Regions from separate parts of the Homo sapiens genome. Here regions 2 and 3 are each reported to be linked to region 1. Evidence: microRNA targets listed by miRTarBase, many of them from high-throughput screens and not tested one by one. Region 1 holds a microRNA gene; each other region holds the end of a gene's coding sequence.
What was found. The annotated mature microRNA hsa-miR-148a-3p reads UCAGUGCACUACAGAACUUUGU and lies in region 1 at 1,915-1,936, opposite strand. An mRNA with a match to its seed (bases 2 to 7 or 8) in the 3' UTR can be bound and repressed. Matches are read on the target gene's strand: a 7mer-m8 pairs with bases 2 to 8, a 7mer-A1 pairs with bases 2 to 7 and ends in A, and an 8mer does both.

Region 1 (3,164 bases):
ACGGCCTCCCCAGCGTTCCTTGTTCTTCCTTCCCTGACGTTTATCACCCTTCTGATTATTTTATATTTGTATTGTCTACCTCTTGCATGAGAAAGACCTCCAAGAGGGCAGGGTTCGGGGCCTATTTTGTTCACTGTTGCATTCGTAACGTCTAGAGTAACACCTGATGCTCGGGAGGTGAAAATACACTGATTGCTAAACGACTGAGGTCTATGAGACCATGCCAGGTTTACAGTAAGCACCCCAAGACTGCCGATTTTCCCAGTTCCTATTCCTGGCATCCTTAGCACCAGAGTAAACCACAGCCCTCCTGCTTGGTTAGTCCTTAACTCACTTGTGGTCACAAACAGGAGAAATGCAAATCACTTAAGCATAGAAGTCAAACCAGACTGAATCATGTCAGGGACTCCAAACCTTGCCTTTCTCTGGAGGTGAGAGATCCTGACCTAATTCCTTTGTATGGATGACTACTCTCCCAGTCAACCGCTCCACTCTTTACCTCCCATTCTCTTACAAAGTTGATTTAAGTTTTCTTAAAATTCAGTATATTCAGACTATCTTGTGGAGATGTACAGACATAAGAACTAGGAAAGAGAATCCTCTTCCTCAAGTAAGCATACCTTACATCTCAAATGAACACAAGACGTACTTGAGTTTGGATCACTTTATTTAACTGCACAGAAATAATTCAGCCATTTTTGGGTAAAGGATTGAGGAACAAAAGCAAAGCAGTCACTGATGGAAAAGTGGGAGAATGGATAATGGCCACACAAAAGAGAACACATGCTGCCTTAGGATCAATACACAGCATTTCTGTGAAAAGCAACTGGTAGGTCCTGCCATTAAGCTCTAACATCAAGCAGCTGAATACTTTCTCCCTCATTGAGCCTTCCTCCATTATCATCCCTCTCCCGATGATAAACCACTGGAATATACCTAAGTAAAAAAAATGGTGGCTTTCTTTACCAAGGGCTTCCCAGAGACACAAGCAACCCCCAGGTTTCTGAAGCATCCCATAAAATACATCAGAAGGCCCTTCCCTTACCTGTCAGCACCACGGGCACAGGAACCATTTCCTTTTTTCCCTACCACCCTGCGTCCTGTGCCTGGCCAAAAGCTCATAAAACCAAAACAGGGCAATGTCCATGGAACAGGACTACAATTTGGTGCCAGTCACTGACCCACTATAGAGAGCAGGCTATTGATAGAAACTCACCAACCCAAACCTCCATTCCACTAGGGATGAGAGAGCAGTCTCTCCACCTAAAGGATCTCCACAGCCCAAAAGCATAAATGTCCCCCTCCCCCAGTGGCTTTCAAAATGCTTTCTTGGAAAAAGTTCTTCCTTTCCATTAATAAAACTTACTTTAAAAAACAAAAGTGAACTGCATCTAAATCGGAAGCAGAATTGAGACTAGATCTCCAAACTCAATCCCTGCAGGCTGTCATTTATCCAGCAGGTCGCTTGAGTAAAAGGACCATTATCTGTGGCTTTTGTACAAATACATTTCCTTCTTTAAGGGTAGAGAGTTTAAATTCCTGCAAGGCACTGCACACTAACACACCCATTAATAAATCTGCAGCTCTCCTGGCTCAGTTTAAGTGAGGCCAGTCTTTCAGTACCTGTTAAGCAACCTTGAAAAGTCCAAAGCTTTATTTTTTTCTTCTTTAAACCAAAAAATTCTACAGTCAGGAGTCCACCAGGGTAAGATGAAGAGATTTGGGGGGATTTTGTTCCCATTTACAGGGTTTAACCCACCCGCTTCAAGGGAATTGGTCAAGTTCCTCGTGCTGCACTTGGACCCCCTCTGGCCTTGCCCCTCCCCCAAGGGAAAGGCGCAGCGACGTGGCCACCAGGGCCACTCGGCCTGGCGTCTGGAGCACTGGCGGCATCGGCGACCACAGCCTCTAGAGACAAAGTTCTGTAGTGCACTGACTTCTATCATACTCAGAGTCGGAGTGTCTCAGAACTTTGCCTCAAAAGACCAAACGTGCTGTCTTCCTCCAGAAGTTTCTTCCTGCAGGTGTGTTCCCCCACCCCCCAGCTAAGACAAAGAAGAATAACTCGTTAAAAGCAATTTAGTTCAGGATGCGACCGATAATGGAACGGGTCATTAATTATGGAAAGTTACTGCCGCAGTCAGCAGGAGCAAATGCCCAACAGAAATGGTGTTTTAACAGCCCGATTCGACAAATTCTGGTCGCAATGTCACAGCAAAGGGGCTGCAAGAATCGCACACTCTCCTTCCTTCCTACCCGTCCTCAGATTAGAACCCATTCCTGGTCGAACCCTCACCTCCCTCGGTAGTTATTTAAACTTTTGCCAGCAGCTAACTCACTCTAACTTGTGGCAACTTTTTACCTTCCCATCTGGAAAGCTGGGGGCGGGGGCGCTGCACGAGGACGAATATTCGGAGCTGAAAGAGTTAAACGGTGGGGAACAAATACAGGCCCGGGAAAAGCCCCTAAGATGGGACGACCCAAGAAAGACCCGCTTTGCGGGGCCTCCCCTGAGACCCCCTTCCCCAGCCATTCCCAGTACTCTATTCCCGGTCTTCCAGCCGCCCGCGCCCAGCCCCGGGAACTCGGGTCGAAGTCGTCCCATCCCCTCCGTTCCACCCACCCACTCTTTGGGATTCTCCCTGCCCCATTAGGCAGTGCTTCCCGCGGACCCCGTTCGCGCACAACCTTGCACACAGTCCCCAAGACTGCTCTTCTCCCCCTCCCGGCACCCCCTTTTCCCTGCAGCATAAGCGACCACTCTGTCCCCCATCCTAGCAGACCCCCTCCCCCCACATACCGCACCTGAACAGCTGTTGCGCGCGTGCAACAGGTCTGGAAAGTGCTTTCCCATCTTCCCCCAAACCCCTCGCCACCGTTCCATCCCCCGCCACCCCTAAGAGACAAGGCCGGAGGGGCAGTGGGCTGCGTCCCCCGGGCCGGGGTGCACGGGCGGCTGGCGGAGTGCGGGGCGCCCAGAGGCTCCCGGGGTTGGGGGCGGTGGTCGCGCTGGGCCGGGACACCTTCGCGAGTGGCCCCTCGTGCGCCCGCCGCAGGCTCCCCAGCCTGCCCCTCCAGCGCCGGCCGCCAGGCATTCCCGGGCCGGCTCCCCCCTCGCGCTCCGCTCCGCTCCCTTCCATCTTGACTTTTGCCGACGTGGAAAT
Region 2 (3,000 bases), not on the chromosome of region 1:
CCGGGCCGTGTTGAAGATCAGGTCAGCAGAAGGGCGGAGAAAGGCATTCAACACCTGTTCTTCCCACGTGGCTGTGGTGTCTCTGTTTTACGGGAGCATCATCTTCATGTATCTCCAGCCAGCCAAGAGCACCTCCCATGAGCAGGGCAAGTTCATAGCTCTGTTCTACACCGTAGTCACTCCTGCGCTGAACCCACTTATTTACACCCTGAGGAACACGGAGGTGAAGAGCGCCCTCCGGCACATGGTATTAGAGAACTGCTGTGGCTCTGCAGGCAAGCTGGCGCAAATTTAGAGACTCCAGTGCCTTCTGAGAAGGAAGATCAAGTTTACATCGAGCAAAGTGACCTTGGAAGACAGGGCACTTGGGATGTCGTTTTTCTTCTAATATTGTTTGAGCTCAAGGTAGATGGAAATCTGAAAGGAGTGTGCTCATGCCATTTCCAGACCAAGAAAATACATTTATTATTTGCTAATTATCATAGTTTTGTTCAATTGCGTTGTTGGTTTTTGCTATATATACACATGTTGACTGTCATCTTGTTTTGTAAACTCCTTGCGTTGTTGTTCAGCTGTTCCTCAGTATCCGAAGCGGGTGGATTCCAGGACGCTCCGTGGATAATAAACTTTGACGACGCTGAGAGCGCGCGGGGAGACCGGAGCCGGCCTGTTCCCCAGAGCCCCCGGAGCCCTCCCAGCCCTCAGGCCTGCGCCTGGGGTGAGCTGAGCCCGGGACTCCGCCTTGCAGGCTCCGGAACCCTCGCTGTGGCTCCCCCGCTCGGCCCAGGCCTTGAAGCCGCGGCGAACCTCTTCCTACCCTACCTCGGGGACCTGGTGGCAGCGGCGGCCTCCCCCAGCCTGGACCCCGCCGGCCGCGGGTCTCCCGGCCCAACCCCACCGACCCAGACCAAGACCGCGCCGAGCCGCCGGGACTCAGCGCCTTCGGGTGGCGGCGGTAAGCGGGGAGGAAACATGGCGCCGCCCAAATGCGCCCGGAGGCCGTTAGGCTGTGGAGGGCGAGGAAGGCGGTCCAGAGGCGGCCGGCAGGTCCACGTCCTGGGCGACCGCTCTGTCGCAGTTGGGCGAGACCTACCTAGTCCTGACGGGTCGTATTTCCAAGACATTTTCATATTCTATCCATTGTTTTGTGTGCATTTTATTACTTCTGTATATAGAGGTAACAACGCTAAGCTTTTTTGAGATGTCTGTTTCTTCTAGATGTTCTGAAGTACCTGATACATGTTAAAATTAGAGGTAGTAAAATGACACATTTTGTAAATAACTTTTTGTTAAAATTCATAGGAAATGTTATTTTGTGGGGGGGGGATGGCATGGTGTTTGTGGACTGGTTCAGGGAAGGAGGGGAAAAGGGAGGTGCAGAGAGCTCTAAGCCAGTGTGCTTACAGTGAGGCGAGATTCACCATTGTTTCTTATGATTGTGCATTTTGTTTTACTTATCTATGTATACAGTGTATCTAAAGGACAAACGAGTCCTAATTTACAACAGCTAGTCTTTCCAGATGTTAAAGAACTTCTATCAATAGAGTAACCTATCACTAGAGTTCACCTCTATCAATAGAGTAACCTCATTCTCTGCCTGATGATTCAAAGGCATGGGAAGACCAAAACCATGTGGCAGTTCCTGTTTTTGATTTTATTATATATATGTATATAATATGAAAGTAGTCATTAAAGTAGTCTTTCCTTTCGTACTAGGATCTTCCAATTCACTGTATTAGTCAGGGTTCTCCAGAGAAACAGAACCAAAAATATGTGTAAAAGAGAATACACACACACACACACACCCTGAGGGGGAGAGAGAGAAAAAAGAGTGAGAGAGATTGAGAGTTAAGAAATAGGCTCACACAATTTAGGGAACTGGCAAGTCTGAAATTTGCAGGGCAAGCCAGCAGGCTGTAAATTTTGACAGAGGTTGATGTTGCAGCTTGAGTTCAAAGTCTGGAGGCAAAATTCCCTCTTTTTGGAAGCAGGTCAGTCTTTTCTCTTAAGGCTTTCAACTGATGGGATGAGACCCACTCACATTATAAAGGGTAATCTGCTTTACTAAAAGTCTACTGATTTAAATGTTAATCGCATCAAAAAAAAAAAAAAAAAAAAAAAAAAACACCTTCACAGTAACACCGAGGCTTGTGTTTGAACAAAAACTGGGCACCATAGTCCAACCAAGTTGATATGTAAAATGAACCATCACACCAAACCCAAACTTTCAGTGAAGTGAAGCAACATTCTTCAACTGGATTATTATGCATCATGTACGAGACACTCTCATGTCTTGTTGGTTTCTGGACTCATGTATCAGGTTACGGTGACTGCAGGTTTAGGGCATACACTGCAGCCTGCAGGAAAGCAGTGCTTATTTACACAGTATTGTTTCTCAGCTTCAATAACTAAACCTTCAGCAGGCCATTCCATCATTCAATAAAGCCCATTCCATCATTCAGTCAAGCCCACTGCTTCTGAATATTGAGGTATGAAGTATGAATCATGAATTCCAAGGGCAATTCTATTGCCACACCCCTTTTGCTGTGAAATATGTTTCCTGGTTACAGGTGATATTGCAGGGGATGCCATGGTGATGATTAAGGCTTTGTTCACTATGTAAATGGTTCGGGCATGGAAGACAAAACTGTCCCCACAATATTATTCTGTCCCTATAAAGACTAACATTGCTTACTCTATGCTCAAAGGAGTCCAGAGTAATCACTATGCTACTAGTCCAGCCAGACGCCTGGAAATAGTGCCAAATCACATGCTAACCTTGGTGAGAGAAATGTCATAATGCTGAGCCCATTCATAGTTTCCATCCCTGCTTCCATGTTAAATTTCTCATAGGCTCAATGAGCAAGCCTGCTGGCAAAAGAGATTGACTGATTACCTACTAGATGAGTCATCTTATCTACCATACCACCAAGATCCATCTCTGCAGTGGATGCCCTCTCATGGGCATTTATGTCAGACAGATATCTTCATGATCTGTGC
Region 3 (3,000 bases), not on the chromosome of region 1:
AATGAGTAATTTTTCATCCTGTTTTTAGAGAGAATTATTTATCACTAACTCTATACTATCTCTTAGTTTTTCTTTTTTCTTTTAATTTTAAGACTGATGATAAAAATAATGATGGAGAAGAGCAAGAAGTTCGAGATGACAACCGCCCCAAAGGCCGAGAGGAACACTACGAGGAGGAAGAAGAGGAGGAAGAAGACGGGGCTGCAGTTGCTGAGAAATCACATCGAAGAGCTGAAATGTAGCGGCACCCAATTTCTAGACAACGCTCAGCCAACGGATTCTTTTCAAGCTGCTCAAACATAAATCTGCCTACTGAACTCTAGGATATTTAATTACAAAAATTAAGAACTTAGACTTTTTTAAAACTTTTGTATTAGAAATGCGCATACATTTATATGAATATATTTTGATAACGTAGGTCTAGAGCTTCTTTTATATTCAAGCTAAACATGAAAAAGAAGAAAAACAATAAAGTAAACCTGAGCCCCCACGTCCCAATTTTTTTAATAGATTATGTGATGTTGGAAAGCTCATTGATTTTGTATATGTTTCAGCGTGTTACCTTTCTGGCTTCCAGTTCCCAGGTGTTCTTTGTTTGCCTTTGATAAAATACAGGATTTAAGAACAGAGAGTACTGCAAAATGCCATGCAGACTTTAAAGAGAATGGCCTGTTTACTAATTGCTGCCCTTCTGATGTCTTTATGTATAGCTCTGATAGAATTTTCACCAGTCTATGTATCTCTGGAGTGAGATCTATGTACAAAGTGACATACAATTGGAAATCCATTTTTGTTGTAAAGACATTGTTTTTCAGACTTTTCAGATCAATTAGAAAAATGTCATTGCTTTAAAATCATAGCTGTTCTGTTTAAGAGGAATTGAATTTAAAAATGAGAGAGTATTAAAACTCATGTGGCAGTATCCTGGTCTTAATCAGGTATTGCAGTGTTCAAACAAGGTATGGACACATCAACATATTCACCTTTTGGAAGGACTAGTGACTTGGTTAAAAACTAATGAGTGTTTGCGTGTGGTGTTTCTATGCGAGCACCCATTCTCAATTTTTTTTTTTTTTTTTTGTTTGAAGCCATTGATTGATATTCTTGTTTCAGTGTCTGGTTCCCTATAAGTAATATATATTTCCTCTTTAAGCTCTGTGCCTCAATATGCAATCACTTTGATAATAAGTATAAATATGAAGACATACCAAACTGCAAATAGGATTATTTTTCAAAACTATATGGTGAAACATATGGTGATATGATAGACTTATGGTTTTTCTGTTTGCTGGGATTGGGTCTGCTTTTTGCCTATGTGTAAGGCATTTTAATCATTGTGAATATAATAGATTCCTTAAAATAAGAAAATTAAAAATCAGAAACTTCCCTTGGAGTAGAGACATTTCAGTTGCAAGCATAAAGATTTTTAAATATATAACACTAGGTTATATAATTCATATATGTGTGGTTTTGTATTAATAATCAAATTAATAAAAACATTTCATTTTCTACCATTGTATGAACGTAATTTTATTTTTTAATAACCACACTCATAGATGGTTTTGATTGTTCCAGTTGAGTGATTGTGTATGTACGCATAGGAATGTTTTGTTCAGTTGTACTTTGTATTTCCAATAATCAGAAATCTTACCTTTATGTATAAAAACCCATTATGTAATGTAAAATGTATAATATTGTACATAATATTCAGAATACAATTATTTTGGTAAATTAGCTTGTATTTTTAATGTCCCAGTTGCAGTATTTAATTATTTGAACCATACTGAAAGTTGGTAATAGTCAATAAAGCTAAAAAAAAAAAGTGGCAAATCTTTTAAACTATGTGGTCTCTTATTAGTTTATGACCTTCTAACATTCTTCACTTCTTTTTCATAAAAAGAAAAATTTTAAGAGATACCAATATAAATTAATGAATTATAAAGTGCCTTTTCCCACCTGCTTCTGTTTTCTGTATCTTTCTCTACTTGGATTGGCATGTGATTTTCCCTTCTTTTTCTAAAGAAAGAGCTAAAGATGTTTATTTTATTTGAGCTAGCTCTGAGGGAAGAAAAAAGAAATGGGGCAGAATGTATGAGAGTGTCATGTGCATGCACACACAAAAAATAAATGAAAAACTTTAAATCCCCTTAGGAAAGCAACAATCACAAACCATTCTACTCTCTGTATAGCACCAAGTTACAGAGCCATTCTAACTAATGTGTAGAGGAGAACTAATCAGCCTGAGCTGATCTACGTTAATGAGGTGACAAGAAATAAAATGTCACCAGTATTTATTCTGCCAGTCTGTGACTTTGGTGCAACCAATAAATCAAAGGATTTGGTACCAAGAGTATAGTCGGGGTGGGGGGTGGGGGTTGTGGGAGGAAGGCACGTTTATTGGCAATGAGTATAACGGGGCACAACAAAACTAGTACACATGCAATGACTGGTTATTTGCAAGAGTGATTGGGAAGAGTTCTAGGAGTAAAAGCATAATCTTAGCCACATGTGCCAGTGACTTAATTTTACAAAGGAAAACTTGACGTGTATTGAATGCCCTCATAGTGTAAGAAGTATGTGAATAGGATCCACTTCAATCCCCACAGTATTCCTGTAAGGTTGATGGAATCCGCTTCTCACAACTGAAGAACCTTGTCTTCCAAAGCACTTAACATTTAACTTCTTTTAATGCTTAGTTTTGTTTTTAGTTCTATTACATTGTAGTACATCTATACTATGTCATCTTACACAGCCATTAAAAAGAGTGAGTTAATTCTATTTCTCAATCACCTTCTGTGGTTTCTGTTTTACTGTTTTCTCCTAGTTTTTTCCTAGCATACTGACTACATTATCTTTTTTTACAGGTTCTTCTTATGCCTGCTCTTTCAATATTAGTGTTCCTCAGGTTTTGTACTAGAGGTATTTTTTCTGTTCAATCCTCTTCCCATCTATGTGTTATACAAATGTCTTGAATCCATTTCCTTAGCCTAGCTTTCTGTG

Region 2: miRTarBase lists OR2C3 as a target of hsa-miR-148a-3p. The part of its 3' UTR that is shown has no 7-base or 8-base seed match.
Region 3: the mRNA of GOLIM4 is a reported target of hsa-miR-148a-3p. The part of its 3' UTR that is shown has no 7-base or 8-base seed match.

Annotation. Positions count from the first base shown.
Region 1 is chr7:25,948,008-25,951,171 of GRCh38, forward strand. It overlaps MIR148A (microRNA 148a), which reads right to left and starts at 1,979; the gene lies at 1,912-1,979. All of the region lies in intron 6 of LOC105375199 (a long non-coding RNA gene), which reads right to left. RefSeq lists an enhancer at 20-89 and a silencer at 2,933-3,072.
Region 2 is chr1:247,528,844-247,531,843 of GRCh38, reverse strand. It overlaps OR2C3 (olfactory receptor family 2 subfamily C member 3), which reads left to right. Exons shown (of 3, transcript NM_198074.6): 3 at 1-3,000. The coding sequence ends at 295. It overlaps GCSAML-AS1 (GCSAML antisense RNA 1), which reads left to right and starts at 1,040. Exons shown (of 4, transcript NR_027309.2): 1 at 1,040-1,254. It also overlaps a transcript of GCSAML not described here.
Region 3 is chr3:168,007,511-168,010,510 of GRCh38, reverse strand. It overlaps GOLIM4 (golgi integral membrane protein 4), which reads left to right. Exons shown (of 16, transcript NM_014498.5): 16 at 93-1,822. The coding sequence ends at 242. Among named protein-coding and RNA genes, the nearest start is that of GOLIM4, 87 kb to the left of the region's middle.